Homo sapiens: one gene and its partners. The protein of the gene in region 1 purifies or fractionates together with the protein of each later gene. This does not show direct contact. Each region holds a gene or a part of one and is shown on either strand. Other genes may lie near its edges. The genes, in order: DEGS1, ZFTRAF1 and EIF5B.

Region 1 (12,076 bases):
GAAAGGAGTTTACAACAGAAGGGAGAACTCATGCAAAGCTACTGAGTGATTTCTTAGGACTGTCTGAGACGGGATCTCGCTCTGTCACCGAGGCTGGAGTGTAATGGCGTGCAATTTCAGTTCACTGCAACCTCCGCCTCCTGGGTTCAAGAAGCGAAACTCCAGCCGTGGGCGGTGGCTCAGGCCTGTAATCCCAGCACTTTGGGAGGCCAAGGCGGGCGGATCACGAGGTCAGGAGATTGAGACCATCCTGGCTAACACGGTGAAACCCCGTCTCTACTAAAAATACAAATTAGCCGGGCGTGGTGGTGGTCGCCTGTAGTCCCAGCTACTCGGGAGGCTGAGGCAGGAGAATGGCGTGAACGCGGGAGGCGGAGCTTGCAGTGAGCCAGATCGAGCCACTGCACTCCAGCCTGGGCGACAGAGCAGGACTCCATCTCAAAAAAAAAAGAAAAAAAGAAGCGAAACTCCTACCTCAGCCTCCTGAGTAGCTTAGGACCACAGATGCACACAACACCAGGCCCGGATAATTTTGTTTGGAGTTATTCTTTAGAGGTTATGGGGCCCAGCCTTCTTACTGCCCAGATTGGTAGCTCTCTTAAAGAATGGATCGAGTTGGCAGATGGGAGCCAGAATAATCGGGATGCCTGCTACGAAGACTGAAACTTCCATTCAGGAAAGAAGTGGTTATGTAAGTGGAGACTGGAGTTTTGGAGAGGGATGACAACCCACTCTGTGCATCCAGCAGGTAGTGAGAGGTCTGAAGTGATAGATTTGGAGGTTTTCAGCATTTACATGGCAGCTGCAGCCATTGGCTAAAGTTCTTTTGGTTGTTGTTTTTTTTTTTTGAGACGTAGTCTCACTTTGTCGCCCCGGCTGGAGTGCAGTGGCTCGATCTCGGCTGACTGCAAGCTCCGCCTCCTGGGTTCCCGCCATTCTCCTGCCTCAGCCTCCCAAGTAGCTGGGACTACAGGCGCCGGCCACTACGCCTGGCTAATTTTTTGTATTTTTTACTAGAGATGGGGTTTCACCGTATTGGCCAGGATGGTCTTGATCTCCTGACCTCGTGATCCGCCCACCTCGGCCTCCCAAAGTGCTGGGATTACAGGCGTGAGGCACCGCGCCTGGCCTTTTTTTTTTTTTTGGAGACGTTGTCTTGCTCTGTCGCCCAGACTGGAGTGCAGGGCGTGATCTCGGCTCACGCAACCTTTGCCTCCTGGGTTCAAGCGATTCTCCTGCCTCAGCTTCCCGAGTAGCCAGGACTACAGGCACATGCCACCATGCCCAGATAATTTTGTATTTTTTTTAGTAGAGACAGGGTTTCACCATATTGGTCAGGCTAGTCTTGAACTCCTAACCTCGTGATCCACCTGCCTCAGCCTCCCAAAGTACTGGTATTACAGCCACCACGCCCGGTGCCATTGGCCAGAGTTCTATAGACTTGATGGGAGTACATGATCTCTATGATCTAGCATCAAATCCAGGGGTATGTTTTGCAGATACTTTAGTGACTGAGTAAAATCTGAATTGTAAACTTGGTTCTATTGTCACTCTTTGATTGTTCTTTGAGTAACAGATTAGAAGATACTAGGAATTTTCCTAGGCAAGGGGGTCAGGAAGGGAAAGCAAAGTATTTTGGGGATGAAATGAGGTCTGTGAGACAGGCCTGGCAGTCCCACAGAGGATTCTACTCCTCACCCCGCCCTCAGCATTCTGGGTGTTGTTTTATTCTTTACGAAACTGCAATGTAGCCAACTTTTTTTTTTTTTTAGAGGGTGTTTGTCACCCAAGCTGGAGCGTAGTAGTGCGATCATGGCTCATTGTAGTCTCAATCTCAGCCTCCCAAGTAGCTGGGACTACAGGTGCACACCACCACACCACTCTTATTTTTTGAAAAGATGGGGGCCAGACACAGCGGCTCATGCCTGTAATCCCAGAACTTTGGGAGGCCAAGGCAGGCAGATCACCTGAGATCAGGAGTTTGAGACCAGCCTGGCCAACATAGTGAAAACCTGTCTCTACTAAAAATACAAAAAAAAAAAAAAAAAAAAAAAAATTAGCTGGGCATGGCTGTGCACGCCTGTGATCCCAGTTACTCAGGAAGCTGAGGCAGGAAAGTCGCTTGAACCCAGGAGGCAGAGGTTGTGGTGAGGCAAGATTGCGCCACTGCACTCCAGCCTGGACAACAGAGCAAGACTCCATTTCAAAAAATAAAAAATAAAAAAAGATGGGGTCTCACTATGTTGCCCAGGCTGGTCTCAAACTCCTGGTCTCAAGCGATCCTCCTGCCTCAGCTTTCCGAAGCATGGAATTACAGGTGTGAACCACCACACCCAGCTGCTGATGTATTTTTAAAATAATTCACCATATTACACTAAACGTATCCAAGTGACATATTTGAGGTAAGCAAGACTGCTGACATAACAACAGCCCATGCTACCAGCTACTTGAGACCAACGATCTACCATCAGACCACAGCCAGTTCCCACTGCAGTGAAATAACATGAAAGTCTTTATCAGTTGAGCAGTTTCTAATGTGAGAGTCAACACACCTGAAAAATGAATTTGAATGGTGGAAATTCAGTAAGTACTTTATTTATGAGTAAGGCTGTACAGGATTCAGCAGTGTCTAATTCGGGTCCCATATAGAAGTTAAAATTTTTAAATGAGTAATTCAGCTTACAGGGAAATATATTTTCATCTCAATCTTTTATGCTATATCATACCTCAGGCTTTTTAAAAATTATTTTTGAGATGAAATTTTAAAGTTCCCCCGGTACCCAAGTTACCATATTATATAGTATAAAGATAGTGAAATACAAAAATGTAACAAATACTAATACACTGTGATTAATAGCTGTTTATTAGCTTTTTAATAAAGCAAAACTTTATAGTGAAATAAACTAGAAATAGCTTTTTATTTTTTATATATATTTATTTATTTTTGAGATGGGGTCTTGCTCTGTTGCCCAGGGTGGAGTGCAGTGGCACAATCTTGGGTCACTGCAGCCTCTGCCTCCGCCTCCTGGGTTCAAGCAATTCTCCCACCTCAGCCTCCCATGTAGCTGGGATTACAGGCATGTGCCGCCACGCCCGGCTAATTTTTGCATTTTTAGTAGAGATGGGGTTTCACCGTGTTGGCCAGGCTGGTCTCGAACTCCTGACCTCAGGTGATCCACCCACCTTGGCCTCCCAAAGTGCTGGGATTATAGGCATGAGCCACCGTGCCTGGCGAAATAGCTTTTTAGAAGCTTTTTAAATGATATGCTTATAAAATGACAGACATGAGTGAAACATCCTCAATGACGATAATACACAAGTCACAAGTTTCCTGTGAGTGAAACTGAGCAGTACAGAGTCAGGCTGACTGTTTAAAAGCCAGATTCACTTCTTGGTATCACCGAGCTCTTACTCTGAAATTGTGCCAGGGGAGCTTCTGAGCATCACTGGTCTCAAGTTTAATAATGCAAAAATTCCATTTTATCATCTAAAGTTTTGGAGAAGAATCCCTTTGGCACTAATGATATTTACTCCAGCACCATCTCTCCTTTTTGGTGCCTCTTCATTCTTGAGTAGGGACTTATTGTATCATCCATCACAAAATCATACAGTACTTTTATCCAGGAATTGTAGTGAGGGAGGTTGTCATAGTATTCAGCTGCTATTTTCCTCACCTAGAAGGGAAAAAATACAGCAAGATGAAAAATGAGTGTTACTAGGTTCTTTCAAAGATGACTGATGAATGGTTGACACAAACACTGAGAAGGGAAACCATGAGACCTGCCTCCCTCCTCTCTCTTAAAAAAAAAAAAAAGCAGCAGCAGCAGCAGCTGTGGGAATTCTAAACAAAAAGCAGTCTACATTTCAGCAGCAGTTGAATACACTCGACCCTCTAGGTCTCTCTCCCATCACATTCCAAGGGACTAAATATCTGGCTTATTTGTAAAATTAACAACAAATACATACAATTAGATTAACTTGATATTATTAAAGAATGTACTGCATGGATGACGCCATAGAATATAAAGGCAACATCTGATCCCTGCCATCCAGGAACTTACAAATACTAATAAATTGTGGCATGCTAATTAGATAGAAATTAAGCACTTGGCTGGGTGCGGTGGCTCATACCTGTAATCCCAGGACTTTGGGAAGCCGAGGCGGGTGGATCACCTGAGGTCAGGAGTTCGAGACCAGCCTAACCAATATGGTGAAACCCCATCTCTACTAAAAATACAAAAAAATTAGCCAGACATGGTGGCGTGCGCCTGTAGTCCCAGCAACTCAGGAGGCTGAGATAGGAGAATTGCTTGAACTCGGGAGGCGGAGGTTGCAGTGAGCCGAGATTGTGCCACTGCACTCCAGCCTGGGTGAGAGAGAGACTCCATCTCAAAAAAAAAAAAAAAAAAAAAAAAGCACTTATCAAATGTGCAATTCTGCCATCTCAAGTTAAAAATGTCTTTTCATCTCAAGTTAAAAAACTATCTGGATGGGCACAGTGGTTCGTATGTATAATCCCAGCATCATTCTGGAAGGCAAGAGAATCACTTGAGCCCAGGAATTTGAGACCAGCCTGGGCAACACAGGGAAACCCATCTCTCTCTTTTTTTTTTTTTGAGACGGAGTTTCGCTCTGTCACCCAGGCTGGAGTGCAGTGGCACAATCTCGGCTCACTGCAACCTCCACTGCCCGAGTTCAAACGATTCTCCCGCCTCAGCCTCCCGAGTAGCTGGGACTATAGGTACCCGCCACCATGCCCAGCTAAGTTTTTTGTATTTTTAGTAGAGACAGGCTTTCACTATGTTGGCCAGGCTGGTCTCGAACTCCTGACCTCAGATGATCCACTCACCTAGGCCTCCCAAAGTGCTGGGATTACAGGTGTGAGCCACTGCACCCATCCAGGAAACTCCAGCTCTATAAAAATGTTAAAAATGTTAAAAATTTTAACAAACCATTTGGAGGATTAAAAGAAATTATTTAAAAAATCAGCCTGTCATAGCATGTGGCTGTAGTCCTAGCTACTTGGGAGGCTGAGGCAGGAGGATCACTTGAATCCAGGAGTTTGAGACCAGCCTGAGCAACACAGCAAGACCCTGCCTCTACAAAAAATAAAAAATTAGCCAGGCATGGTGGCACGTGCCTATAATCCTGCCTACTCAGGAGGCTGAGGTGGGAGGATCGCTTGACCCAGGAGTTGAGGCTGCAGTGAGCTATCGTACCACTGCACTCTAGACTAGGTGACAGGGCAAGACCCTGTCTCTAAAAAAACATAAAGTTAAAAAATAAAATTAAAAATAAATCCTAAGTGTAACCACTAAGCTTAAGGACCCAAGAGTGAACCCTTTGTAAAAGTAGGCTGGAAGATGCAGTATTTATATTCTTGCTCTTTTTGTTTTTTTTTTTTTTAATGAACTGCTTGGACTGACAAAATACTAGCCTGGCCAACATGGCAAAACCCCATCTCTACTAAAAATACAAAAATTAGCTGGGCGTGGTAGCATGCGCCTGTAATCCCAACTACTTGGGAGACTGAGGCATGAGAATCGTTTGAACCCGGGAGGTGGAGGTTACAGTGAGCCGAGATCGTGCCACTGCCCGCCAGCCTGGGCGACTGAGTGAGACACCGTCTCAAAAAACAAACAAATGAAAAAACAAAATTAGAATATGTATCAAATCCTTTACTTACCAGTGGAAGACTTTTTCCAGGAATGTTGGGGAAATCATGATGTTCATTATGATAACCCACATTGAAGGTAAGTAAATTCAGAGGCCCATAATATGAGTAAGTTTCATGACCCTTTAAGAACATGTAATGCTCAGCTATAAAATGTCCAGAAATTGGGTGCAAACCCAGGCCAAGTAAAGATGCTGCCAACATGTAGACTAAGGATTTAATTCCCAAAAAGTAATAAATTAAAATGTCAAAAGTGACCTGTGCCACGGTATTGATAACTTCCAGATACGTAATTGGTTTGGGGTTGATGAACAGAGGTCGAAAGGCATAAAAGAGAGGCTGAAGAATAACCCATATAAACTTTCTGAAAGCGGTACAGAAGAACCAGCCCTCAAAATCGGTAGGAATATCTACATCGACGCCATCAGCTCCAAGGTACCGATGATGATCCATGTGATACCTCTTAAAGGAAATTGAATATGGAATCCCAATAGGAAGATTAGCAAACATTCCAAACCAGCGATTCCACATTGCTTTGCAGTTGCCAAAGGCAGCATTGTGGGCAATCTCATGAATAGCCAGAGTCATTGAGTGGTTAATGCAACTGCCAAACGCATAGGCCCCAAATATGACCCATTTCCAGTCCAAGTCTTTTACTATGTAAAATGCACCCAACTGGGTGAGAACCATCATAATTATAATCCATATCAAATTGGGATCAGGTTTCATCAAGGACTTTATCTCTGGATACTTTGCTGTAAAGAAAAAACAAAAAAACAGGAACTAAGAAAAGTATGTAATAGTTCACCAATTATAATTAAATTAACACCAATTAAACTAACACATTAAATTTGTTCTGTAAATCATATTCCCTTTACTAGAGACTTTAGTGGATATTTAATAACACAGGGAAGGATTCTACTAGTAAAGTTATGAAATATCATGTCACAATAATTTGAGAATTTATGCAGGAAAAATTAGCCTCAAAGTTTAGAAGTTCCACATTCTTTATATTAAAATACATGTTATTTCTGTGTTTAGACAGAGGTACAGCATTCTTACCTTATATAAAACGATTAAATTAACACATCTGACAAAGGATAGAATATAATATACATTTTGTAGTTACCCTAAAATCATGAAACTGGTATTCACAGTTTTCTCAGACAAATCAACATGCTCCAAGTAATTCTGTACTGAATTTTCCCAAAATTGTAATAGTATATAAAAACCAATACTACAGGCTACCAATATAATCAGGGAAAGAACAGTCCTTTCAACAAATGGTGCTAGACCGACTTGTTATCAACAGGCAAAAGAATGGATTCAGACCCCTACCTTACACCATACACAAAAATGAACTCAAAACAGATCACAGACCCAAATTTATAAGAAAATTATAAAACTCTGATAAGAAAACATAGAAATAAATCTTCATGGCCTTTGTGGTTTCTTAGATACTATAACAAGTACAAGTGACAAAAGAAAACAGAGAAATCGGACAGCATCAAAAACTTTCTGTTGCACATGATACTGTCAAGAAAGTAAAAAGACAATCCACAGAAGCGGGGTTATGTTTGCAAATCATGTATCTCATAAGGGACCTATATCCAGAATATATGAAGAACTCTTACAACTAATAATCCAATTAAAAAATGGGCAAAGGATCTGAACCCACTTTTCTCCAAAAGATACGGAAACAGTCAAGAAACACATGAAAGAGGCTCAACACCGTTAGTCATTAGGAAAGTGCAAACTGAAACCATAGATACCACCTCACACTCACTAGGATGACTATAATAAAAAAAGGTAGGTAAAAACAAGGATGTGGAGAAATTAGAACCCTCATACTTTGCTAGTGGGAATATAAAATGGTGCAGCTGCTTTGGAAAACTGTACAGCAGTTCCTCAAAATGTTAAACACCTGGTATATCCATACAAAGGAATATTATTCAGCCAGAAAAAGGAATCATACACTGACATATGCTATAACATGAATGAACCTTAAAATATTATTTTATTGAAATATTATTTTATTGAAAATATATTATTTTAATGAACCTTAAAATATTTAGAGACAGGGTCTACCTCTGTCACTCAGGCTGAAGTACAGTGATGCCATCATAGCTCACTACAGCCTCAAACTCCTGGACTCAAGTGATCCTCCTGCCTCAGTCACCCTAGTAGCTGGGACTACAGGAGCATGCCACTGTGCCCAGCTAAAATATTATGCTAATGGCTGGGTGCAGTGGCTCACACCTATAATGCCAGCACTCTGAGAGGCCAAGGCAGGAGGATCACTTGAGCCCAGGAATTCAAGATCAGCCTGGGCAACATAACAGGACCCTGTCTCTACAAATTAAAAAAAAAAAAAAATTTATATTATGCTAAGTAAAAGCCAATCATAAAAGATCAGGTATTTTATGATTTCATGTATATGAAATGTCCAGAATAAGCAAATCTATAGGCCACAAAGTAGATTAGTGGTTACCTAGGTAGAAGCAGGGGATATGAGGGACTGCTAATGAGTATAGGGTTTCTTTTGGTGATGATGAAATGTTCTAAGGTTATATGGTGGTGACAGCTGCACAACTCTGTGAATATACTAAAAAATACTGAACTGTACACTTTAAATGAATAAATCATGATAGTTGAATTATAATCTCAATAAAGCTATTGGCCAGGTGCTGTGGCTCACACCATTAATCCAGCACTTTGGGAGGCTGAGGCACAAAGACTGCCTGAGGCCCAGTGTTCAAGACCAGCCTGGGCAAACAGATTCTATTTCTACCAAAAATAAAAAAAATTAGCCAGGTGAGGTGGCACAAGCCTGTAGTCCCAGCTACTTAGGATGCTGAAGCGGGAGCATCACTTGAGCCCAAGAATTTATGATCACACCACTGCACTCCAGCCTGGGCAACACAGTGAGACTCTCTCTCAAAAAATAAAACATTAAAAAGCTGTATCATGTTAAAGTATAACAGTGAAGGAACCATTTCTTGTGATTTATTCTTTTTTTTTTTTGAGACGGAGTCTCGCTCTGTTGCCCAGGCTGGAGTGCAATGGTGAGATCTCAGCTCACTGCACCCTCTGCCTCCTGGGTTCAAGCAATTCTCCTGCCTCAGCCTTCCCAGTAGCTGGGATTACAGGCGCCCACCACCACACCCAGCTAATTTTTGTATTTTTAGTAGAGACGGGGTTTCACCATGTTGGCCAGACTGGTCTTGAACTCCTGACCTCAGGTGACCTGTCCACCTCAGCCACCCAAGGGCTGGGATTACAGCCATGAGCCACCCAGCCCAGCTCATCCTCACGAATTTCAAACAGATGCCTTGTAAATGAACTTTTAATGTGAACTCTAAATGTAAACTTAAAGTGTACAATTGTTGGTTGTTCTATCAGGCCCCTTCCCTCCCCCGCCAAAAAGTCAATACTTTCAGAAAGATCTCTTATCATTTGTGTATAATTTAAACAAATCTAAAGATTCTTTCTACAGGTTATTCCATCTCCCACCCTGAAACAGAACATGAGTTAGTATTTACACCTGCATGGAAAACATTGTACACTGTATTTTCATTGAGAAATATGTAGTCCTTCTTTTTTTTTTTTTTTTTTTTTTGAGACGGAGGCTCACTCTGTCGCCCAGGCTGGAGTGCAGTGGCACCATCTCAGCTCACTGCAAGCTCTGCCTCCCGGGTTCACGCCATTCTCCTGCCTCGGCCTCCTGAGTAGTTGGGACTACAGGTGGCTGCCGCCACGCCCGGCTAATTTTTTGTATTTTTAGTAGAGATGGGGTTTCACCGTGTTAGCCAGGATGGTCTCGATCTCCTGACCTCATGATCCGCCCACCTTAGCCTCCTAAAGTGCTGGGATTACAGGCGTGAGCCACCATGCCCGGCCAAGAAATATGTGGTCCTTTTACTTTCCCAGTGAAATGGTTCAGTGATAAGTCTGTGGGGGGAAAAAAGGCTCAGTGTGAGGTAAGTATCAATCAGCACCTTCTCACTTCCTTCATCTCTTTTTCTTGAGACAGTCTCACTCTGTTGCCCAGGCTGGAACGCGGTGGGGCAATCACGGCTCACTGCAGCCTCTACCTCCCCAGCTCAAGCAATCCTCCCACCTCAGCCTTCTGTGTAGCTGGGACCACAGGCACATGCCACCATGTCCCGCTAATTAAATTTTTTTTTTTTTGGTAGAGATGGGGTTTTGCCATGTTGCCCAGGTTGGCCTCGAACTCCTGAGTTCAAGTGTTCCTCTCGCCTCAGCCTTCTGAGTAGCGGGACAGGCATGCACGCCTAGCTAATTTTTTAATTTCTCGTGCAGATGGGGCTGTTCTGAACTGGCCTCAAGCGATCTTCTTGCCTCAGCTTCTCAAAGTGCTCGGATTACAGGCAAAAAAAAGCCACCACACCCGTCCTGATTTTCAGAATATTAAGTAGCTCAGTTTCAGTATTCCAGAGTTGGTTTTTACACAGGTAGGACGCTAGATTATTCCTATGTAACATGTAGATAAGGCATTGATAAAATATATCATATGTGGCCTGGCAGGGTGGCTCACGCCTGTAATCCCAGGACTTTGGGAGGCCATGGCAGGCGCATCATCTGAGACCAGCCTGGCCAATGTGGCAAAACCCTGTCTCTACTAAAAATAAAAATAGAAAAACTTAGCCAGGTATGGTGGCGGGCGTCTGTAATCCCAGGTACTCGGGAGACTGGGGCAGGCAGAACTGCTTGAACCCAGGAGGGAGAGGTTGCAGTGAGCCGAGACTGGGCCACTGCACTCCAGCCTGGGTGACAGAGTGCGGCTCCGTCTCAAAAAAGTATCATGCTATCTCATATCAAGTATGTGTAAGTGATGTGCCAAACAAATTGCTACTGGCAGGCTGAGGTATGCGGACCACTGGAGCCCAGGCTGCAGTGATCATCATGCCTGTGAACAACCACCGCACTCCAGCTTGGGCAACAAAGCAAGACCCTTTCTCTAATGGAGTGTAGGGGAGGAGGAAGAAGAGGAGGAAGGGAATTCAAGAACCCAAAGTTACCGGGTGCAGTGGCTTACGCCTTTAAAATCCCAGCACTTTGGGAGGCCAAAGCGGACAGATTGCTTGAGCCCAGGAGTTCAAGACCAGCCTGGGCAACACGGAGAAACCCATCTCTACAAAAAATAGAAAAATCAACCAGGCATGGTGGTGTGCGCTTGTGGTCCCAGCTACTTGCTTTTTCTTTTCACTGGGCAAATGAATGTTGAGAAGAAAAACTAAGGAAATACTATATATAAGGAATAATTGCTCATGTTCAACTCACCGTTTCCTCAATTTAAAAAAAGTGTGTGTGTGTGTGTGTGTGTGTGTGTGTGTGTGTAAACGGGGGGCTCTCACTATGTTACTCAGGATGGTCTCAAACTTCTGGGCTGAAGCGATCCTCCCGCCTCAGCCTCCCGAAGTGCTAGGATTACAGGCCTGAGCTACCGTGACCGGTCCCCGTTTCCTCAACAGAGGTTAAAAAGCTCGTGCTCTGGCCGGGCACGGTGGTTCACGCCTGTAATCCCAAAACTTCGGGAGGCCAAGGCGGGCGGATCACCTGAGGTCAGGAGTTCGAGATAAGCCTGGCCAACATGGTGAAACCCCGTCTCTAACTAAAAAAGATACAAACATTAGCCAGGCGTAGTGGTGGGAACCTGTAATCCCAGCTACTCGGGAGGCTGAGACAGAAGAATCGCTTGAACCCAGGAGGCAGAGGTTGCAGCGAGTGGAGATCGCGCCACTGCACTCCAGCATGAGCAACAGAGTGAGACTCAGTCTCAAAAAACAAACAAACAAACAAACAAAAAACAAACACGTGCAGTCTCAAAAAACAAACAAACAAAAAACAAACACGTGCTCTGGAAGAGGCAACCGAATGCGCATTAGAATCCCCCTAGCATTTAGTCACGCGTTCTTATTTCATTTTTTAAAACAGCGATAATACCAACCAAGTAGAATTACCAAGAGGATGAAATTGGGTAATGTTTGTAAAGCATTCCACACAATCCCTAGCATATTAGGAGTAGCCTGGGAGAGATGAGCATTCTCTATGTAACACAGAAGGCCCGAATCCTCTGGAGAGTTAAGGCCTCTCAATTAGCTGTCAGGGGACCAGCAGGCCACGCCACATATTTTCCTTATTTGGCAAGTCTTCCATTTTCAGTCTTTTCATCCACAAAACCGAGATGGATGAAAAATGCCTACGAATCCGCCGTTCTTACGTCCCAGGCTTGTCGTGAGGATCAATGGGACAAGCGGCGTGAACCGACCAGGGCCCATCAAGTCCGAGAAGCCCCGGGGGGCATATGGAGGGACGCCGGCCCCCTTAACGGGCCCAAGGCCGGGACTGCGGCCGCCCCCGCCAGTACTGCCCGCCGGC
Region 2 (8,866 bases), on another chromosome or scaffold:
TGCCCATCCAAAGCATGGCTCTGAGCCAAGGCAACTACTTGGAGGGCAAGCTGGTGAGGTGTGTGAGGGGCACAGTGAGGCTTGAGGGAGGGAGTGGGGAGTGAGATTCAGAATCAGAGGACTCAGATGAACAGCTGAAGACAGGGTGGCTTGGACACCAGAGGGGCTCCCTGAGCTACCTGGACAACGATTAAGTATCCCCTTCAGCCCCAGGGTCCACAGGACAGCCCAGCTCCTGGAAGCCGAATTCCCCTTCAGAGACAACCCAATTTCTCTCTTTTTTTTTTTTTTTTTTCCGAGACAGAATTTTGTTCTTGTTGCCCAGGCTGGGGCACAATGGCGTGATTCTGGCTCACTGCAACCGCCTTCTCTCAGGTTCAAGTGATTCTCCTGCCTCAGCCTCTTGAGTAGCTGGGATTACAGATGCCCACCACCACGCCCAGCTAATTTTTGTATTTTTGTAGAGACAGGGTTTCACCATGTTGGTTAGGCTGGTCTCGAACTCCCAACCTCAGGTCATCCACCCGCCTCAGCCTCCCAAAGTGCTGGGATCACAGGCGTGAGCCACCATGCCCGGCTGACAACCCAATTTCTCTGTGCCTGTTTCCCCAGTAACCAGACAAGGTACACACGTCAGGCAGTGCTGTGCAGGGCTGCAGGCCTGGTGCAGATTGCCACAGGCTGAGGGCAGCAGGGGAGGCCAGCAGAGCCCAGAAGGCCCAGCTGTGTGTCTGTCTTCTGGTAAGGAAACACAGACAAAACATGGGTTGGAATATTTTTTTAAACTACAGTTGTTACATACAGAAAATATCCAAAGAGAACGCAGACCACAAAAGTGACACATAAGTCATTTCCAACAATGGTAAAAACACTTCTTGCTCTGCTCTTTAAAAAATTATTATTTTTTTGAGACGGAATCTCGCTTTGTCACCCAGGCTGCAGTGCAGTGGCACAATCTCAGCTCACTGAAACCTCTGCCTCCTGGGTTCAAGCGATTCTCCTGCCTCAGCCTCCTGAGTAGCTGGGATTACAGGCGCGCGCCACCACGCCCAGCTAATTTTTGTATTTTTAGTAGAGATGGGGTTTCACCATGTTGGTCAGGCTGGTCTCAAACTCCTAACCTCAGGTGATCCGCCCGCCTCGGCCTCCCAAAGTGCTGGGATTATAGGCGTGACCCACCGTGCCTGGCCTATTTTTATAAATGAGGGATGTGGTGCTCACCAGGGGGTGGGGATGAGACAAGGGAGGGAGAAGGGTGGGGCCTGGCTTAGGCTATGCCCCCCACATCTGCGGAGTGTGGACCCCCACGCCCCCATCCTCAGAGAAGACAAAGGAGCAGGTCGGGACGTCAAGATGTCTCAGGGTCTTGGACACAAGCCGTGTGTTTGGCGGTCCTGTCATGTGTGGCCCACGTTGGCAACGCCACGGGAAGCCCGTGCTCCAGTTCCCGGTGGCCGAGGACCCACCGTGGTCCTCCCAGGTGCCTGGCTCCCCCAGGCCATAAGGCTCAGCTGCTGCATGTCATGGTCACAGGGCAGATGCCTGCTGAGTACGCTGGGCCGCACTTGCAGACTTGAGGCACCCACATCCCACATCTGGAAGGGCCTTGTGTGGACACTGCCCTTGCCCTCAGGCCAGCCCCTCCCATCCTGAACTCCCACAGGGCTGGTTGCCCCGGGACTGCGGAGGTGGGGCTGCAGGAGCTCAACCAGCCCCGGGTCTCCTTTCTCCACGTGGCCCCCCAACCTGCAGAGACGTCTGCCTCCAGGCCCCTGGCGTCCCAGCCTGGCTGTCCCCATGAAGAACAAGCCTCCCACCTTCCCCACCCCAGAGACATGCTGGGGCCTGTCCCTCCGTTGAGTCAGTCTCTCACACACACAACCAAACAGGTGACAGGGCAAGCCCGCCCCACCCGTGCGCCCCACACCATCACCTTGGACCCAGAAACACTACGCTAGAGGGCGTCGGGCTTCCAAAGAGATGTAGAGCCATAGCCCAACCCTCTGCGCCTGTGGGTGGAGCATGAGGGAGGACAGCCCCAAAGCGCAGCCCTGAGGTGCCCAAGTTCACCCTGGTGGTGCCAGAGTCAGAGGCAGCTGCTCCCAAGGATGTGCTGGGGGCTGGGTGGGGTCTTTCTTTGTGGTCAGCAGAAAACCAAACATGGGGCCTTCCCATGCCCTTGGTGGCCAGGCCACATCAGCTCTGCAGGAGATAAGGCTCCGGCAGCGAGGCACTCCCAGCAGGCCACACGCCCTGGCCTGGGAGTAGAAACCCACAGCATTCTCAGAAACAGCTCCAGAAAGTTTCAGCCCGTGAGGGGCAGTGCGGCGGCCCGGGAGGGAAGAGCTGACTGGGAGGGTCATGCTGGGCTGTGCCATGGTCAGCCGCCCGGATGATGGCGCTTACATTCTGCCCCCAGTTCCTCTCCATTTCTCAGCCCTCGACCCGTGACCAGCAAAGCACAGGACAATGTGGGCCAGGCCCCAGCAGCCAGTGGGGGCGGGTTGGGCTGCTGTGAGGCAAGTTAATGCACCTGACTGGAGCAGAGGAAACCAGTTCTTTGGTATTGAAGCAACAAAAAGCTATCACGGAAGAGCCACATCTCCTAAGCAAAGGTGGGGGCGTCAAGCTGTATCCTTCCCAGTAGCCCTGGGAGTCCCAGGGGAAGAAAGGACCAGGGATTACCCCTCCAGGCAGGGTTCCTTCCCATCCTGTTAGGCCAGCCCTGCTCAGCCACCACGGGGCACATCAGGGGGCGGCCAGGGTGAGGATGGGAAGGGCCCACCTCCTCCAGGTGAGAAGCTGGGCTGCCCAACCTCTGACCTCTGCAGCGAGCCCTGAATGCAGGGCCAGCAGCAGGACCCCGAGAGCAGCATGGGGGACACACCTCAGACTCTCACCCAGCCAGGCGCCCAAGCACTGACCCAAGCTTTCCACACAGCCTGGGGACGCTGGGCCCTCAAGGCTGAATCTACAGTAAATAGACTCTTTCTCACTAAAATTGTGTAACTTATCCAAGAGCCTGCAAGGAGTTTAATCTTTTTCCTGGGAAGAGACAATTTCACCCTGCTTTCGGAAAATGCCTGCTGAGCCCTGGTGGCTGAGTCCTGTCTCCCTGGGAGCGGCCGGTTGGCCAGGGCAGCCCCGACCCTACCTGGATCTTCCTGCCCAAGCCTCAGTCTCAAGACCCCATGACAGAGTGTAGGGGGAGGCAGTGTCTCTGAGTCTTTCCTCGGGGGACGTGTGCGGGCACACAGATGGGGGCGGGGCAGGCTCTGACCCCCAGGCCAAACCAAAGCCCCCACGCTGTCCATTCACAGCCATGCCTTCCCCTCGAACAAAACAGAAAGTACGAAACAAGGCTGCCTTTTAATTGCTATCAGATATTCGGATATCCCGTCTGATGTCAGCAAGGCCCCCGCGCCCCGCCGGAACCCGCAGGGATGGAGCAGCACCGCCGCCTGACTGCACAGAAGGGCTGGGGCAGGGTCGCTGTGCCTCTCGGCCTCCTTGCTGCCACCGTCTCTGAGCCTCGGGGCGCCTGGTGCACCGTCTCCTCTTCGGGTCAGCCCAGCCTCTGGCGGCCCTCGGAAGGAGGGGAGGCAGGGGTCGGGGGGGTGAGCCGGAGGCGGGGGCCCCGTCGCGCACGCATGCAGACTTGCCCTGTGTTGGCTTCGTTTGTTCTCCTCCTTTGCTAAAGTGATCAGATAGTCCTGTGAAGCAGCTGCCAGCCAGGTGGACAGGGCAGCGGTGCTGGGATGCCGCCCGTGGGCTCCTCGGACATCCTGAGGCCCCGCCCTACTTCTGTATCTGGAACAGGAAGAGCCGCAGGTTGATGTTCTTGGCAGCCAGCAGCTTGTTGCACTCCACGGAGTCAATGATGGGCAGTGGCACGTAGTCCGTCTCGTTGCTCTCGTTGGTGAAGACAAAGTGGTAGATGACGGGGCTGATCCTCACGTCGTCGTAGGGGCCCTTGAGCAGCAGGAAGGAGCACTCCAGCGGTGCCGTGACCTTGCTCTTGAGGAGGAGCTGGAAGGAGAGCGTACGCTTGCAGGACAGGTTGGGGTTACGCTCCGAGTCGTTGACTCGAGCCTTCAGGACCCACGTCTGGTTCAGCACTGTGAACCTGGGCGTCTCATAGTACAGGCGCGTGATGAAGTCGTCTGTGCGGTACGGCCGGAACTGGACCTCTGTGGAGACAGACAGGGCCGGAAAGAGCCGGCTGTTAGTGTGGGCAGGGCTGGGCAGCAACGCCTTCCCTGACCAGGCCGAGGGCAGGCTCAGCCGGGGAGGAAGGCAACTTACCCGGACACCGGGCTCTGCTTGTCACAAGCAAGCCAAACGCAACTATGGCAAATGGAGGTGCACACAAGCTTTGAGGGGAACAACCACAAACAGAATCAACATGGATTAGCTGGAGAGTCCAGAGGCTGCACGTGTCAGGCCACACCCCAGGCGTGCCCGACCCACGCTGGCCTCCCTCACCGCCCCGAGCCCCGGGTGTCCCCCAGGGCGGGGTAAGCAGACACACAGACAGGATGCGGTTCCGAGAACAAGTGCACTTTATTGGTTCTGATACAGAGGAGCTGCCAGAAAAGCCAGCAGGCGGCTGCGGCACCCAGCCCTGCCCGAGGGGAGCACCAGGTCTGCAGGCACCGGGCCTGATCCGGAGCTGCCAATCAGCAGGCAGCCCTGCCTGCACAGTCCTCTTGGGCAGCCCACAGCCTGTGGCCGGCAAGTCCCTCCGTGGAGGCGTGGGTTCCCAGGTGGCCAGTCTTTCCTGCGCGAATGGGGCTTCTCACCTGGCCACGGCCACAGCCACAGTGCCCCAGCCTGCCTAGACTCCACGAGGCCCCGGTATCTCCAGGACAGCTAAGGCTGCTACTCACCACGGGCTGTGGCTGCCGCAGAGACCCCAGGCCCTCGGCCTCTCTGGCCTGCTCGGGCCCACATCCCGCTGGGCACAGTCCAGGCAGCAGGGCGGGACTGGCTGCCCACGACCACCCTGCTTGCGCCACGCCTGGTGCTCTGAGCTGGCCGCCTGGTGTGGGCTGAGAGTAGAGGGATGGAGCTTCCTCCAGTGGCCCCAGCATCAACAGGTGCTTCTCGCTGTCCTCTGGGCCAGGCTCTGGCCTGGCTCCTGCTCCCCGACACGTTCAAAGGCGGTGGCAGCGGCCCAGAGAGCCACGAGATCCAGTGTGCCTGCGCACGCATCCAGCCTGGGCGTCTGTGGGTGTCCACTCCCGGTTCTACAGTTTGAGTCGGGCACCCTCAGCTTGTTGTGGAGCCCTCTCCCTGAATGGCTTCGTGCCAGCCTTGAGAGGCCCATGGCCGGGGCAGTGACTGCCTGCAGGTAGGACCTCACTCGGCAGGGTGCTCTTCTTGCCCCAGGGTCCGAGGGGCAGGCCCCTAGCTCCCAGGCCCCCTGAGACCTGCCCACTTTCTGGTTAGACCCTGACTGTCTTGAGGCTCTGGAGCCCCACAGTGAGATGCCACCTTGCAGGGATGGTGAAGCCAGGGTGGCGAGGACAGGTGGGCGGGGCTGCTGTGAGAGCCACACAGGTGTGCACCTGGGGTCTGCCTCGGCCCCTCCTTCCACTCAGTCTCCGGCCTGTCTTCTCGACCGAGGTGTCCACCTGTCCACCGGGAGCTTGTCCAGAGCCCGGCTGTCCGGCGCTGTCAGTGCCCAGTGCCCAGAGCCTGCTGCCCCCAGACTCCTGGCTGCCAGCCCCCCAACCCACACCTGTGTGGCATGCAGCAGGCGGCGGGGCGCCTCACCTGTGTAGCCAATCTTCTCGAAGCTGAGCAGGCTGAAGATGCTGTTGTACAGCTGCATCTCCTTGCGGTGGCTCTGGTCCATCCCATCCAGGATCTCCATCAGCTCACTGCCTGTCTTGGTCGGGTGGGCGCACGCAGCCTCGTGCACCGTCAGCTCATGGAAGGGGCCGTGCCATGGGCAGCCGATGCGTTTGTACTTGCACTGGGTTACCCTGGGGGAGGCAGGTACATCACTCACAGACTGAGCCCCGAACAGGAGGCTGCAACAAGCTGTCCTCCCATATGGCTTCCATCCAGCTAAGAACCCCTTCCTGCAGGACACACGTAACTGTGAGCCCACCCCCCAGGATGAGGTCAGAGTGGCAGCATGTGGAGAGAAAGGAGACAGGCAGAAAAAGGGAGAGAGAGGGGAAGGAAGAGTGCAAGCTTGAGCCTGTGTGCCCCGCACCATGGCGTGGTTCTCTCCTCTGTTTGGCAGTGGTGGTCCTGCACAGCCTCACTGCAGGAGACTTGGTGGCTGCCTCCACTGGATGGGTAGCCATGGGCAGTGTACCCTCACACCAAGCTCCCTGAGGTCCTGCGTTGGACACGCTGTCCTGGGCCCTTCAAGGGGCTCCCCCACAGCCACAAAGAGCACTGGAAGGCTAGGCTCATGTCCGGATAACAACTGGGTGCAAAACCCACCTGTCCCCATCCTGTGCAGGCACCCTCCCACAGGGCCGTCACTGGGCTACACAGGTGGTCCCCAAGGCCCAGACAGCAGAGACAGCCAGACCACCCTGCACAGGGCCCTGCTGCACCAGGGTGGGCTCCCAGCAGTCCTGGGCCCCGCCTGTAAGGCTAAGCCCCTGACCCTCAGTTACCTGTCCTGGCATTCCTCTTTCTGGTGCCTCTCCAGGAGGGAGCGGGGAAACTGGCGCAGGCAGAAGCCACACTCTGAAGGCAGCTCGCTCACGGCTTTCTCCACGGCCAGGTTCCGGCAGCAGAGGCTCTTACTGATCTCACAACGACAATTGGGGCACGTGGCCTGCTCCTCCTTCAGCCGGGCATCTGCTAGTAGGTGGATAAAACAGCCAGCGCACATCAAGTGACCATTAGTACACTGCGAAGAAGGAAAGGGAGACGAAGCTCACAGACCTGCGGGCTCATGCTCGCACACACCCGCCCATGCCCATCAGCTCCAGCCAGGTGTCCTGAGGGACTCCAGCTGGTGCAGAGGGGCGCACGTGCCTGTCCCGAGTCGTGCTGGAGTGTGGTGAACACTGCGAGCTGCTCAGGAGAAACAGGCAGAGCCAGCTTGGGTTCTTGCAGAGATTAGAGGTCCTAAAAGCAAGGCCTCATCAGCTCACAGAGGTGACAGCTCGCCCTGGCAGTGACGGGTTCAGCCACCTGGGGCCGAGGGTCACGCTTTTCCCTTAGGGACCAGCGACTGCCCTGACCCCCCTACAGGTCCAGAGTTTGGGAGCCCTCCAGGAACACTGGGCTCTTGGCCATCACTGTCAGGTGGGGAGCGGATGCAGCTCCCACACTGGGGCAGGCATGCTCTCTGGGCCTTCAGAAAGGCCATTTATCCTGGGTTGAGAGGACTTGGCTCAGGGTGAGCCCAGGTGAGAGGAGGCAGCTGCCCCCTCGTCCAGGGAGGTTGGCTACCTGCAGAGACCTCCTCAGAGCTGGGAGGCAGGAGCCAAGCTGGCCCAGGACAAGGACAAGGGCAGGTAGGCACACAGGGAGTGCCTGGGGAGCAGAAATGGGGGCTCTGAGTGGGTGCCGAGCCTGCTGGGGTAACCGGGGCTGGCAGGAGCAGGGCACCTCCCGCTGGGCTCCCTGCCTGTGTGGGCTCCCAGCACGCCCAGTGGCCTATCCTGGCTCTCACTCCCTCAACATAAGCCTCGAGCGTCCACTTGGTGCCACTGAGAGACACATGGCAAGCTGCGGTCCCAGCCCGTGGGGGCTCACAGCATGGGAGGTGGGAAGCCCAGACCAGAACCAAGAGGTCCAAGAACAAACAAAGCCTTTTGTACCTGAGCAGACACAGTTCCCACAGCCCTGGCTGGAGTGGGGTGTGTGGGCTGAGGCATTCCAGGGCCAGCCAGGAGTGACAGGGATGTGATGTGCCTCCCACCCAAAGACTCTTAGAGCTCGCTGAGGGGAGCAGTCAGCAGAGTTGCTCCTGTCCTGATGCCTCTCCAGCAGCCGGCCCAGGCTTGCCAGCCATGCAAACCTCCAGAAAGCCACTGGGCTACAGGCTTCCTTTGGGACCTGGGACCCTCTTGAGAATGGGATGTGGTGCAGCAGAGCAGCCTGCCCAGGCCCAGCCTCTCTACAAGGTGTGTGTCAGGGAGGGGACACTCACAGGGCCCTGCCTGGTGGCGCTGGGAGGCCGGCCCTGCCTGGTGGTGCTGGGAGGCCAGCCCTGCACACGTGGGGCCCTGGGAAGTCTGAGCTGCCATCCTACTGCTTCAGCTGCCTGTGCACCCCAAGCTAAGGAGCTGTCAGACGCTGGGGCTGTTCACTCAGCACCTGTGGACTAGGCCTAAGGCCTGCTGAGTCAAAGGACCTACATGTGGAGAACCGACAGTGAGGACAAAGCCCTCTTTCATGGAATCCACATCCACATGAACACCACCCGTTACCTGCATTCAATCCTCAAGTTCTCAGTTTGGTTAAAAATTAAAATTACAGGCGGTGGCTCATGCCTGTAATCCCAGCACTTTGGAAGGCCGAGGCAGGCAGGTCACCTGAGGTTAGGAGTTCATGACCAGCCTGGCCAACATGGTGAAACCCCATCTCTACTAAAAATACAAAAATTAGCCATGCATGGTGGCGAGCGCCTGTAATCTCAGCTTCTCAGGAGGCTGAGGCAGGAGAATGGCTCGAACCCGGGAGGCGGAGGTTGCAGTGAGCCGAAATGGTGCCACTACACTCCAGCCTGGGAGACAGAGTGAGACTCTATCTCATGAATACATAAATAAATAAAAATTAAAACATACACAGTTGCCTGAGGCAGGGAGTGAGACTGGCTCTGACTGGGTTGGGGACAAGCTGAGACCTGCCCCCAGGAGAAGGTGTGAAAATCCGCCAGCCAAGT
Region 3 (12,076 bases), on another chromosome or scaffold:
CTACAGATGCCCGCCACCGTGGCCAGCTAATTTTTTGTATTTTTAGTAGAGACGGGGTTTCACCGTGTTAGCCAGGATTGTCTCGATCTGCTGACCTTGTGATCCGCCCGCCTCGGCCTCCCAAAGTGCTGGGATTACAGGCTTGAGCCACCGCGCCCAGCCAGAACTATCTTTTTAATATAGCTAGCATGTTATAATTTACTATTACTTAAATGCTTCCATTTCCTACTACTGCCAACATATTAAACTTAACCAATTTTACATTCAAGCTAATTGTTTCATTAATTTAATTAATTTAAATGTTTCTTTAGATCTTGAAAAAGCTACATGAATATACTCAGTTCTTGAAAACAAATGAAATTTCATATATATCTTCTTTTTGATCATCCAACTCATACTTTATGCAAGGAATTTATTATTTTGCTTTTAACCTTTACAGGTATTTAAATATACTTAAATTCTGAAGTTGAAGGTACAAAACTACCACCATCACTCTGGGTCAATGCTGTGCTCATAACCCCAAAACAGCCAGAAAGCTAAAATTCTGAATATTATTTAGACATTAAAGACCTAATACTCTTCTTAACAAGAATGCTTTTCTTTACTGAAATCTAACCAGGCACAACTATTCTTAAATGAAAGTAAGATGACGGGTAGGACATGTGGTACCTGCTTCCCTGAAATAATCATTATTTACTAACAAGCCTGCATAAGTTATCTTGAGGAGGAAATGAGACTCAGGTACCCAAAACATCCATCTAAATTAGCAATTCTTTCTGGTGCTAAAAATACGATCTAAAATAGTGGACTGCTATTAAGCATATCAATCTAAATTTCTCTAATCTCGTCATATCAGTGCTAGGCTGAGGTCTACCCAGGTGAGATGATCCTATTCGCTCAGAAGAGAAAAGAGAAAAAGAAGGAAAGGAACTATCAATAATATAATTCACCAATGTAAATCAGGCTTAGTATTCTGTAAAGGCTTTTCCCATTCCTGATCCTATCTTTAATCGCTGGGGATTCTCTTGAATACCAAACATACATTTAGGCAGCCCCAGCTCTCCCATCAATATCTAGTCGTAAGAGTTAGAACAATGTTTTTTTTTTAAAACCAGAGATTTTTCCCCAACTCCTCAACATATACACAGATACCCCACAATGAGTAAGTTGAATTCTCTGATTATTGTAAATAGAAGCCGACCTTTAGGAAGGTCTAAAAATGCCAATTTTTATGGTTCTTAAAAAGTTCTAGTTAAAAATCCTTCCAATTTGCTTCTGAAGCATTAAATGAAGACCTTCAGATCTTTTTTTGAGATTTCTGACTCATAAATAAAAGCATCAGAGAAAATCCAAAACCTACTATCCTTTCTTCCTTTTTTTTTGAGATGGACTGTTGCTCTGTTGCCCAGGCTGGAGTGCAATGGTGCAACCTAGGCTCACTGAAATCTCCCTGCAACCTCTGCCTCCCAGGTTCAAGCAATTCTCCTGCCTCAGCCTCCCAAGTAGCTGGGATTACAGGCACCCGCCACCACCCCCGGCTAATTTTTTGTATTTTTAGTAGAGATGGAGTTTCACCGTGTTAGCCAGGATGGTCTTGATCTTCTGATCTCGTGATCCATCTGCCTCACCCTCCCAAAGTGTATCCTTTCTACAAAACATTTTCTAACACTGCTGAAAAGAACACAACTGATTCAAGTCTCACTTGGATACTTATTCAAAGTAGAAATGAAAAGAAATAGAAAAGAAAGAACTATGAAGAAAGAGGGCCATCCAGCCAGATACTTATTTGGTTCTCCCCAATTATTTATAATAACTAAGACAACTTATGACACACCAACACTATTTAATAAGAATTCACTAATTAAATAATCAGATAACACTACCCGCCTGGTTCAACAGGAGGTGGTGTCTCTTCCTTTTCTGGTACTCCTTGTTCCATAACTTCTACAGCAGCACATAATTCCATTGATTCAGACACTGAAAAAGGGGCAGAAACCAAGATAATATTTTTTTTGGTGTATAATTTCTGTTAAGATACTCCATTAAGTACTGAATAAAAAACAGTAGTGTAAACCTATTTATTTTTTATTTTTTTGAAATGGAGTCTCGCTCTGTCACCCAGGCTGGAGTGCAGTGGTACAATCTCAGCTCACTGCAACCTCCACCTCCCGGGTTCAAGCAATTCTCCCTGCCTCAGCCTGCCAAGTAGCTGGGATTACAGGCACCTGCCACTATGACAGGCTAATTTTCTTATTTTCAGTAGAGGCAGGGTTTCATCATGTTGGCCAGGCTGGTCTTGGACTCCTGACCTCAGGTGATCCGCCCGCCTCAGCCTCCCAGCGTGCTGGGATTACAGGCGTGAGCCACTGTACCCAGCCTGTGCAAACCTATTTCTTCAAGTTTAGAAAATGTTTAAATATAGTCATATGTTTTACAGGAAACTACTCTTTCTGCTCAATAAATAAAATACAAAAATCACAGAAGGCTAAGAAGGAAACCAAGAAAAGATAAGAATGGTAGTTTTACTTCTCAGAGTTAACAACAGTTACAATATTCATAGGGTAGAACCCAGATTTTTCAAAGTAAAATACTTTTTCCATTAGCTTGTCATTTGAATCAAGTGAGAATAATGGCATTAATAAGAAATAAGTTTAGAAAATAAGTTTCAATATGCATTTCGGATTTTTTCCTTTCTTCTTTACAGACACTGTTTTGAAGATTGTGGGGGAAAGGCAAACAACATATTTCCTAAATTAGAGGCTATTTTGTATACAAACCTTCTTTACTTTCTAGCTGCTGTGGTATTTTTTTCCTCTTTTTATCTTCATAAATTGGCCTCTTCTTTGGCAAAGAGTCTTTTGATGGCACTTCAACACCTGAGGGATAAAAATGAAAAACTTCAGGCTTATACTACTTGCATGTCACCTGAGAAGTACTATTTAAAGGATAGCATTTCATTCACCACAGAGACACATACCCTAAAATATGAAAGGATATTCATGGAAAAACTTGTATCTTTTACATATAAGGTATTTTAAAATTTACATACAGTAAAAATCCTCGTTTCACATACAGTGAGAGTTTTGATACGTGTATCACCATCACAATGAAGATGCAGAAAAGCTCCATCACTCCATCATCCTGTGCTGCTCCATGTAATCAAACCCTCCTTACCTTCTTAGCCTCTGGTAACCACTGATCTGTTCTCCAACCAAAAGATTTGCTTTTTCTAAAATGTCACATAAATGGAATCTTACGGTCTGGCCTCTATCATCATAATGGATTTGAGAGTCACTCACTCTGCTGCACATGTCAATACTTCGTTTACTTTCATTGTTGGGCAGCATTCCATTGTATGGATATATCAGTTTGCTTATCCATTCAACAGCTGAAGGACATTTGAGTTGTTTCTGGTTTTTTGCAATTATGAATAAAGCAGGTATGAACATTTTCAGACAGGTTTCTGTGTGAACATTTCTCTTGGGCAAATATTTTGTAGTGTGAATGATGAAACATAAGGTAAATATGACCTTAATTTTTATAAAGACACTGCCAGTTGTTTTCCAAAGTGGCTATACTATCTTGCATTCCCACCACTAATGCAGAAGAGTTTTGGCCAGGCGCAATGGCTCACGCCTGTAATCCCAGCACTTTGGGAAGCCGAGGTGGGTGGATCACCTGAGGTCAGGAGTCCAGGACCATCCTGGCCAACATGGTGAAACCCCATCTCTACTAAAAATACAAAAAATTGTATTATATAAAATATATATATATTGTGGTGGTGGGTGCCTATAATCCCAGCTACTCAGGAGGCTGAGGCAGGAGAATCACTTGAACCTGGGAGGCAGAGGTTGCAGTGGGCTGAGATTGCGCCACTGCAATCCAGTCTGGACAATAGCGAAACTCTGTCTCAAAAAAAGAGAGAAAAAAAAAAAAAGAGTTTCAACTGCTCTGAATGTGGTAAAGGTTTCTCTTTTTTTAGAACATTCTTTTCAGATGCGTATAGCTTTCTGGTGAAAGTGTCTGTTGATACCTTTTGCCCATTTTTAAATGAACTTATTGGTTTTCTTATAGTTGAATTTTGAGAGGTCTTTATATATTTTGGATGTTAATTCTTTCTCAGATATCTGACTTGGAGGTACTGTCTTGGAATTCTCTTGACAGTGTCTTTTGCAGAGAAAAGTTCTGAACTGGTCTTTCTCAAAATGTATCTTTTTTCCTTTTATGGTTTAGAGTCCTATCTAAGCACTCTGCCTAACACAAGATATCCTCCTATGTTTTCCTCTGAAAGTATTATTGTATATTTTACATTTACATATGATACCCATTTGGGTCAATTTTTATACAGTGGGAATTAAAACTGGTTTTGGGTTTTTCTGCATACAGATGTCCAATTGTTCTAGTACCACTTGCTACAAATACTGTATTTTATCCACTGAATTACCTTTCACCTATATACTAACCATGTATAGACTATTTATCTGTTTGTCTATCTTTCTGGCAATATCACACTGTATTAATTCCTATAGCTTTATACTAAGTCTTGAAATCAGGTATTCTAAGTTTGTTCTCCTTTTTCAAACATATTTTGGCCATTCTAACTCTCTGGTCTCTTCATATCCATTTTAGAACTAGTTGACAGATAGCTACAAAATACCATGCTGTGATTTTGACTGGGATTGAACTGAATCTACAGATTACTGGATTACTGACTCAGTCTCTCACTATGGGCAGAAGCCTTAGAATAAAGACAACAGAAATTGTATACCATGGGATTTTGAATGAAGTCACTAATAAAGGAAAATGACTAAAAATGTTATCTCTAACGTAGGAATGTATATGGATGTGTGTTGTGCATGTACTGAAGAATGGCTAGAATGGTAAAACCATAGCTATGACTGGTAAGACGAATACATTAAACAAACCAAAGAAAGAGGATAAAGCCAGCTGAGAATGCAGAGATCATCACTTTAAGTTTTCCTTGCCTAGCAGCCTACACCTACTAAGATGAAAAGCATGGGCCTGAGGGGAAACTGTAGGCTGGATTACCTGAAGGGTGGTCCCAATAACACCCTAGACTTAATCAACTGACTACTGCTCTAGTCTCAGACTCTCAAATAAGCTGCTGTACTTGGAATCAACACCAAGACTTGTATGTGTTTAGACATTCCATTCACTTTGCAAACTGAGACATAACAATCAAGTTCTTGAAGAAGCTCTTTGCCTGAAATGAGTTTATTACAAATTATTGATAAAGTACTCATATATGTGTGTGTGTGTATATGCTTAGTAGTCACAGGCTAAAGGATGACTGAAAAGTTAACCTGCTGCACATTTCAGAGCAATTATATGAAGACACCTGCAGATGCCTACACTCTCTGAGAGTACATTTTTAGCTCAATGAATAAGTTTTACAATATTCTAGGTAATAAATGTGGTAAGCAGCTGTCTTTCAAACATACGATGAAACAACACTGTAGGATCTTTTAATGAGATGACTCACATGAGTGGGCTGTGGGTGGGGGGGAACCTTGAATGTCAAGCTAAGGAATTTGGATTCTTATTAGTAGACAATAGGGAACTAATAAGATGGTAAACACTGGACAACACTATGAAGAGTAAGAGACCAGCGTCAGGGATGCCACTTGAGAGAGCATCTCTTACAAGCCTAATGCTAAAGACTGATGCTAAAAGTCCACCATTCTACACTGTAATTTCCATAACTACAAGTCTAACTGCTCCTTAAAACAGCATTTTTGAGACTGGCAAATTACTCCCTGCTTGGTCCCATCTGAATTTCTTCATGGGTGCTTTTAGCCTCTCCAATAGTCACCAATGAAATCTGATGTATGAATGCTAACTATATTCAAGTTTGTACCTAATTTCATTTAAAATTTTACAAAAGCTATATTCTCCATTAAGAATAAAACTTTCTAAAATCTAAGTACTGGGTTTCTTCACATCTAATGTTCCTAGCTGAACATATGCGTAAGAAAAAGTTGCACAGACCAGCTTAAATTTCAGCTCTGTGGCCTTGGGTAAGCTGTTTACACTCTGAACCACCATTTCTTCATCTATATGATGGAAGTAAAAATAGCTATAAGATTTTTTTATGAGGGAAAAATAGACAATGTCAAAGACATTGTAGCATCAGTTACACACTAAGCACACAATAAATGGTAGCTATTACTGTAATTATAGCATAAACACCAAAATGACTGTAATATAAAAATCTAGGGAATATAGGAGCAGGAAATTTAAGAGAGGTCCCAATATATTCTTCTCATTGGAGCAAAGACACTATTTTAAATCACCTTACCTTTCAAAAAAGTAATAAATTATATGCCCAGTTGTGATCTCTAAACACTATTACCCTCTAAAAGGAACAAAAGCTCTTTGGATAAACAACCGATTCCAGGTCTCAGCCCATGCAAGATGAACCTGGGATATCTTGTTGCATCAGAAAGTAAGGAAAGGGTTAAAAAAAAATGGTCATGAATACTTTTTCACCGTGGTCATGTGGGCAAACTAATATGCTGTCTGGGAATCACTGTATTTCTTTTTTATTTTTTGGGATTCACTTTAAAACATGCTAGGATAAAAAGTAGATGGAGAGGTACAAAACAAGAATGTCAAATGGTCCTAATTGTTGAAGCTGGCTGATAGGTACACAGGGACTCATTCTATTATTATCACTATTCTTGTTTGTGGGAGGATAACTTATTTAGACATACTATCATTTACATATAAATTTTTATCCTCATGTAGATGTCATCTTCCTAAACAATGAAATGACATCACCTATTCCTTACGTTTTACTGAACTTTTTCACAGATTTTTCATAGGAACTGTCCTGATGCAAATTCCATTCTCCTTCTGAACATTAAGGGATATAACTGCATGTGCAGAGCTCTCTGACCATTCAGTTAATGAAGAGTACCACTCACCCTGAGCTTGTAGCAGTTTAAGAGTAGCTTCGGCTCTGGCTCTGGCTTCTCTCTGGGATTTAGTTAAAAGTTTCCCTTCTTTTTTCAAGCGTTCTTTTCTTTCTTTTTCTTTTTGCTTTTTCCTTTCTCTTTTTTCTTGTTCCAATCGTTCCTATAAAAGAGTACATGTCAGACAAAACCTGTATTCATTTAATGAACTATAAAATTCAAATGTAAACAATCCAAACTTCAAATAAATCTCTTGAGACACATGCAAAGTATTATGTTAGGAGATTCCAAATCAAAGTATTTTAAATGTTATACATGATTATTAATTAATATCACATCAGATTATTGGCAATGATACATAAGCAACTTATGTATCGAGCAATCTGTTCTTGAGAAAATAAAGATAAGATGTGCTGTACCTCTTCATCTTATTATTTGTATCGGAACAATAATATAACTGAATTACCATGCAACTATGAAATTTTCAGAATTAGAAGAGTAAAGATATTTTACAGAGAATAGATTTTAAGTTAAACACAATATCAATGTTACCAACTTCATGAAAACATACCTCTTCTTTACGCTTGGCTTCTAATTCTTCAAGCCGTTTTATACGTTCTTCCTCTTCTCTCTTCTGTCTTTCTTCTTCCTCTTTAAGCTTAGCCAGAGCTTCTTGCATAGCTTTAACAGTGGCTTTGCTAGGTCCTTTTTTCTTCTCTTTCTCTTTTTCTTCCTTTTCTCCTTTCTTTTTCTTCTTATCTTTCTTCTTTTTGTCTCCTTCATTGTCATCTACCAAAAAGAATAAAGGCAAAGCATTGAAATGAAAAAACAATTCCCTGTGGTGATGACGAGCAAAACCCAACCACAATTCAAGGACCATAATGGGCCAAGGCCGATGCCAGCAGCAGGCTAAGTTCTACAGGCATCAAGGCATCCTGAGCACTTTGGTAACTAGAATAGCTCAGAATAACTCACAGATGGCCTCCTGAGAAGTCTGCAATACTGATGTTGGTCTCAGATGTCCTGAGGAATACAGTAAGACAGAAGGATACTGTCAGCAGCAAAAGGGCAATCCTGTACCTAATGTATCTCTAAATCCATGGTACCTGAGTGGCTGGTGTCCAACAGATGCTTATATGAAGTTCTAACAATCAGAATGAACTAACACCCACGTAAGTTCTGTAGCTAATTTCACTTCTACAAGATGGAGTTAATGAGAATGATGTCCACTTTAGGGGGTATTAGTAGGATAAAATACAAAAATATAGGTAGTTATACTCCAAGAACTCTAAAGAATTAAAAGCTATGAAGGTACTTTCATGGTGTTCCTCCTCGAATATATCCAGATAATAAATATGCTAGCATTTAAAAAAGTTGCTGGGCACGGTGGCTCACACCTGTAATCCCAACACTTTGGGAGGCTGAGGTGCATGGATCACCTGAGGTCAGGAGTTCGAGACCAGCCTGGCGAACATGACGAAACCCCATCTCTACTAAAAATACAAAAATTAGCCGGGCATGGTGGCGGGCTCCTGTAATCCCAGCTACTTGGGAGGCTGAGACAGGAGAATCACTCGAACCTGTAAAGAGGAGGTTGCAGTGAGCTGAGATCGTGTCATTGCACTCCAGCCTAGGCAACAAGAGTGAAATTCCGTCTCAAAAAAAAAAGTTGTGTCAATTTTCCCATTAAAAGTTTTCCAGTCAAAAGAAAAACTACTGCTTTTGTTGGTTTTTTGAGACAGAGTCTCAGTCTGTTGCCCAGGCTGGAGTGCAGTGGTGCGATCTCCGCTCACTGCAAGCTCCGCCTCCTGGGTTCACGCCATTCTCCTGCCTCAGCCTCCCGAGTAGCTGGGACTACAGGCGCCCGCCACCATGCCCGGCTAATTATTGTATTTTTAGTAGAGATGGGGTTTCACCATGTTAGCCAGGATGGTCTATATCTCCTGACCTCGTGATCTGCCTCAGCCTCCCAAAGTGCTGGGATTATAGGCGTGAACCACCGCGCCCAGCCCAAAAACTACTGTTTTAAGAATATAGTATGGCCATGCAAACCATCTGATCTTTAGCTATTTTCATTCTAAATAAGAGGAAGAAATTAGCTAGAACTTTTATTTTATAATTGGTTGTTAAAAAAATGGCTCATTATTGCTTAAAAGACACTAATTTTAGCATGTTGAGTTTTAAGTGAAGCAGAAAATATTAGCAACTTCATGAAAACATTTCTTTGTGAATTTCATAAATTGAACTAGGTTTTTAAAGACAGGAAAGAATTCAAATATTATCTGACACTGAGTTATCAGAAAGGAAGAATAAATTTTTCATTAAGTAACTTCTATAGCCTTTATCAACAGCAAAAAAAATAGTTTTCATAATGCAATTCTATAAAAATTCCAGTCTGTACATAAATAATCTGAAAGATATTTATACTATATATGTAAAGAATTAACAATGCAAATCAAGTCAAATACTTAGACGTAATTTTTTAGATGGCTCCTTACAATCAAGTGTCTTTATACCCATGGACAAATAACAAAACGACCTTGGGGCACAATGATTACAACTTATACTGTGAATCAAAAGCCTTTTGCTCTTTCCTCTAAAGTATTAACCAACCTTCTGCAGCTGTGGGAGTCTCTGCTTTCTCTTCAGAGGCAGGAATTACTCCAGTATCAACAGTCACTTTGGATTTTACAGTTTCTTCTTCAAATTTCCTTTGAGATTCCTTTTGTTTACTCTGATCCTTTTTACCTGTTTCTAACTCTTCTTTTTCTTTCAGCTTCCGCAGTTTCGCTTTTTCTTCATCTCGCTTTTTTCTCTCGCGCTCCTTCTTTTCTGCCTTCTTTTGGGCCACTGTCTTAATTTTGAAGGAGGCGTCATCATCTTCATTCCCACTTTCTATGTTAGGACCTGGCTTGTTTTTCTGATTTTTTTTCTGTCCTTTTCTAGATTGCAAAAATTCATCTGATTCATCACCACTTTCACCAGAAGAATTTATTCTTGAACGCTCTTTAATTTTTTTACTGTTATCCTCATCCTCCTCTGACCCATCCCACTTCTTATTTGATTTTTGAGCTTTCCCTTTAGCTTTTTTAGGAAGTTTGTTAAAATCATCATCATCATCACTCCCAGAGTACATTTCCACTTTCGGTTTTGCAGTCTTTTTTGATTTTGAATCTTTATCTTCCAATTCTTCGCTATCATTATCATCAAAACTCTGTTTTTTGCCCTTCTGTCCTTTCTTTTTTTTATCTTTTGAGGTGAATTCCTCTTCATTGTTTTCTGTTGGCTAAAAAATTTCCATTGTTAGAAAAAATTAACAGAATTATAATTGAGACCAGAGTCATGTGCTTCATTAAGTAAACATTTTTTAAAAATCTCAAAATGATTTCAAAATCTTTTTCAAAGTCTTTTTCACAGGAATATAAAATTCAAACAAGCAAGAGAGGTTGGCCTTGGCCTCAGACACATCTCGCATCATTGTAAATTGCAGAATCCAGGGGCTCTTGAAACAGGCACTAGTCACCACCCATTTACTAACTTTACAAAGCCTAAGGGACAAGTTGAAAGAAGAAAAAATATCTATGATTTTCCCATTACTCTGAGGCTTATCCAAATTCGAAGGATGAAAAAGAAACAACAGAGAAAACTGAAGATGGAACGAGTGATTACATCACAACTCCAAATGTACCAATTTTATGAACAATCAACATACCACAAAATACCTTTACATTCCTATTTTTCCCTTTGACATCAGATTTCATAGAAGCTTTTAAATAACATATTGTACACTGCTCAAAAGTTTCCAAATGTAGCTCCCCAAACCAACATTAAGAAGAAAGAATAGAATACGAAATACGAATAGGTAACAAAGGTCTGTCTTTCACCTTCACTGCAACAGTTTCTCTGTCAGCTTTGATGCCTTGAGCTTCCAAAGACAATTCTTCCAGTTCTTTCAGGATATCATCTTCACTAGAAAAGGATTAAAATACATTGTGAAGCACTGGTATAGTTTTTATTAAGTGAATCCAGTACCAAAACAAATAAAAATCAAATATATTTAAAATATACTTACTCAAAGTCCTGCTTTTTTTTCTCTTTTTTCTTTTTCCCTTTTGACTTTTGAGGCTCCTGTTCTTTGGCAGCACCAGCTCCTTCTATTTCTGCAGCCAAGGCATCAAGATCAATGTCATCCTTGGTGCTTAAATGAAAACAAAAACATCCTAAATGCTACTTAAAAGCAAAATAATCATTCATTTATATAGATTTTATCATTTTAACCTTTTTCATGCATTAGCAGCACAATGAGAAAAATCATTTGGCAAGTTCTTTCATTACAACACAAGTTACATCTACTTATCAGCCTCCCTACATCTGCTTCAGTGAAGTTTCTGGATTACACTCAAATAAGGAACAGATAATGAAAAGCTCCAGAAAAAAATCAGGGTAATCAAGAAAAGGAAATTAACTTTTACAGATACCAAAGGTTTTTTGTGCGTCTGAATGAAGTTATTTATAAAATGGGAGATCTTAAAACATAAAACAAGTCTTATTTCTCGACGATCAATAACAACACCTAAATATTTGGATCCCTGTGCATTTTTACTTGGAATAGCAGAAATTTCAGAGTTGGAAGGAAGTTTAGAGATCAGTCACCTAGCCTATTATCTCATTTTACCAATGGGAAAACTAAAATGCACAAGGATTGAATGTCCTGAGAAAAACATAACCACACATTCAAATCTAAATGAATTAGGAATGATTCACTAAATAAAATACTTAACCAAAAATCCAGAACTAAACCTGCTTGCTCCTGGTTTCATTTCTGGATCCATCCAACAATGTCGTCACCTACCAACTTACTTGGAGTAAACCAAATTAAGTTCCAGCTAAAACCTACAGAAAATGAAGGCAGTCCAGTCTAAAATGTCCAAGTAGCAAAGGCAGATGAATCCAAATGAATGGCACAGTAAGAAAACAACTCATGTAATGTGGCCTTTATAATGGACACCTTGTAAGAGATGCTTTAGTTCAGTAAAGAAAATTTCTTTTTTTTTTTCCTTTTTTTGAGACGGACTCTCACTCTGTCGCCTAGGCTGGAGTGCAGTGGCGTGATCTCGGCTCACTGCAACCTCCACCTCCTG

The links.
Region 2: the proteins of DEGS1 (region 1) and ZFTRAF1 purify together in Homo sapiens (affinity purification with mass spectrometry; 2 studies listed by BioGRID and IntAct, with this or other methods). This does not show direct contact.
Region 3: the proteins of DEGS1 (region 1) and EIF5B purify together in Homo sapiens (affinity purification with mass spectrometry; 2 studies listed by BioGRID and IntAct, with this or other methods). This does not show direct contact.

Annotation. Positions count from the first base shown.
Region 1 is NC_000001.11:224,183,930-224,196,005, reverse strand, and holds the end of DEGS1 (sphingolipid delta(4)-desaturase DES1), read right to left. Parts: intron 6,430-12,076; coding exon 5,687-6,429; intron 4,915-5,686; coding exon of another isoform or gene 4,873-4,914; exon of another isoform or gene 4,850-4,872; intron 3,675-4,849; coding exon 3,528-3,674; 3' UTR 2,565-3,527; downstream 1-2,564. UniProt on the Homo sapiens protein: Has sphingolipid-delta-4-desaturase activity. Converts D-erythro-sphinganine to D-erythro-sphingosine (E-sphing-4-enine). Catalyzes the equilibrium isomerization of retinols.
Region 2 is NC_000008.11:144,446,581-144,455,446, forward strand, and holds the end of ZFTRAF1 (zinc finger TRAF-type-containing protein 1), read right to left. Parts: intron 6,881-8,866; coding exon 6,642-6,880; intron 5,991-6,641; coding exon 5,779-5,990; coding exon of another isoform or gene 5,600-5,778; exon of another isoform or gene 4,545-5,599; intron 4,191-4,544; coding exon 3,799-4,190; 3' UTR 3,002-3,798; downstream 1-3,001. Other genes in the region: TMEM276-ZFTRAF1 (uncharacterized protein LOC157542 isoform 1 precursor), read right to left, coding at 3,799-4,190, 5,779-5,990, 6,642-6,880.
Region 3 is NC_000002.12:99,359,293-99,371,368, reverse strand, and holds part of EIF5B (eukaryotic translation initiation factor 5B), read right to left. Parts: intron 11,134-12,076; coding exon 11,008-11,133; intron 10,905-11,007; coding exon 10,820-10,904; intron 10,222-10,819; coding exon 9,549-10,221; intron 7,725-9,548; coding exon 7,507-7,724; intron 7,099-7,506; coding exon 6,948-7,098; intron 2,877-6,947; coding exon 2,778-2,876; intron 1,978-2,777; coding exon 1,888-1,977; intron 1-1,887. UniProt on the Homo sapiens protein: Plays a role in translation initiation.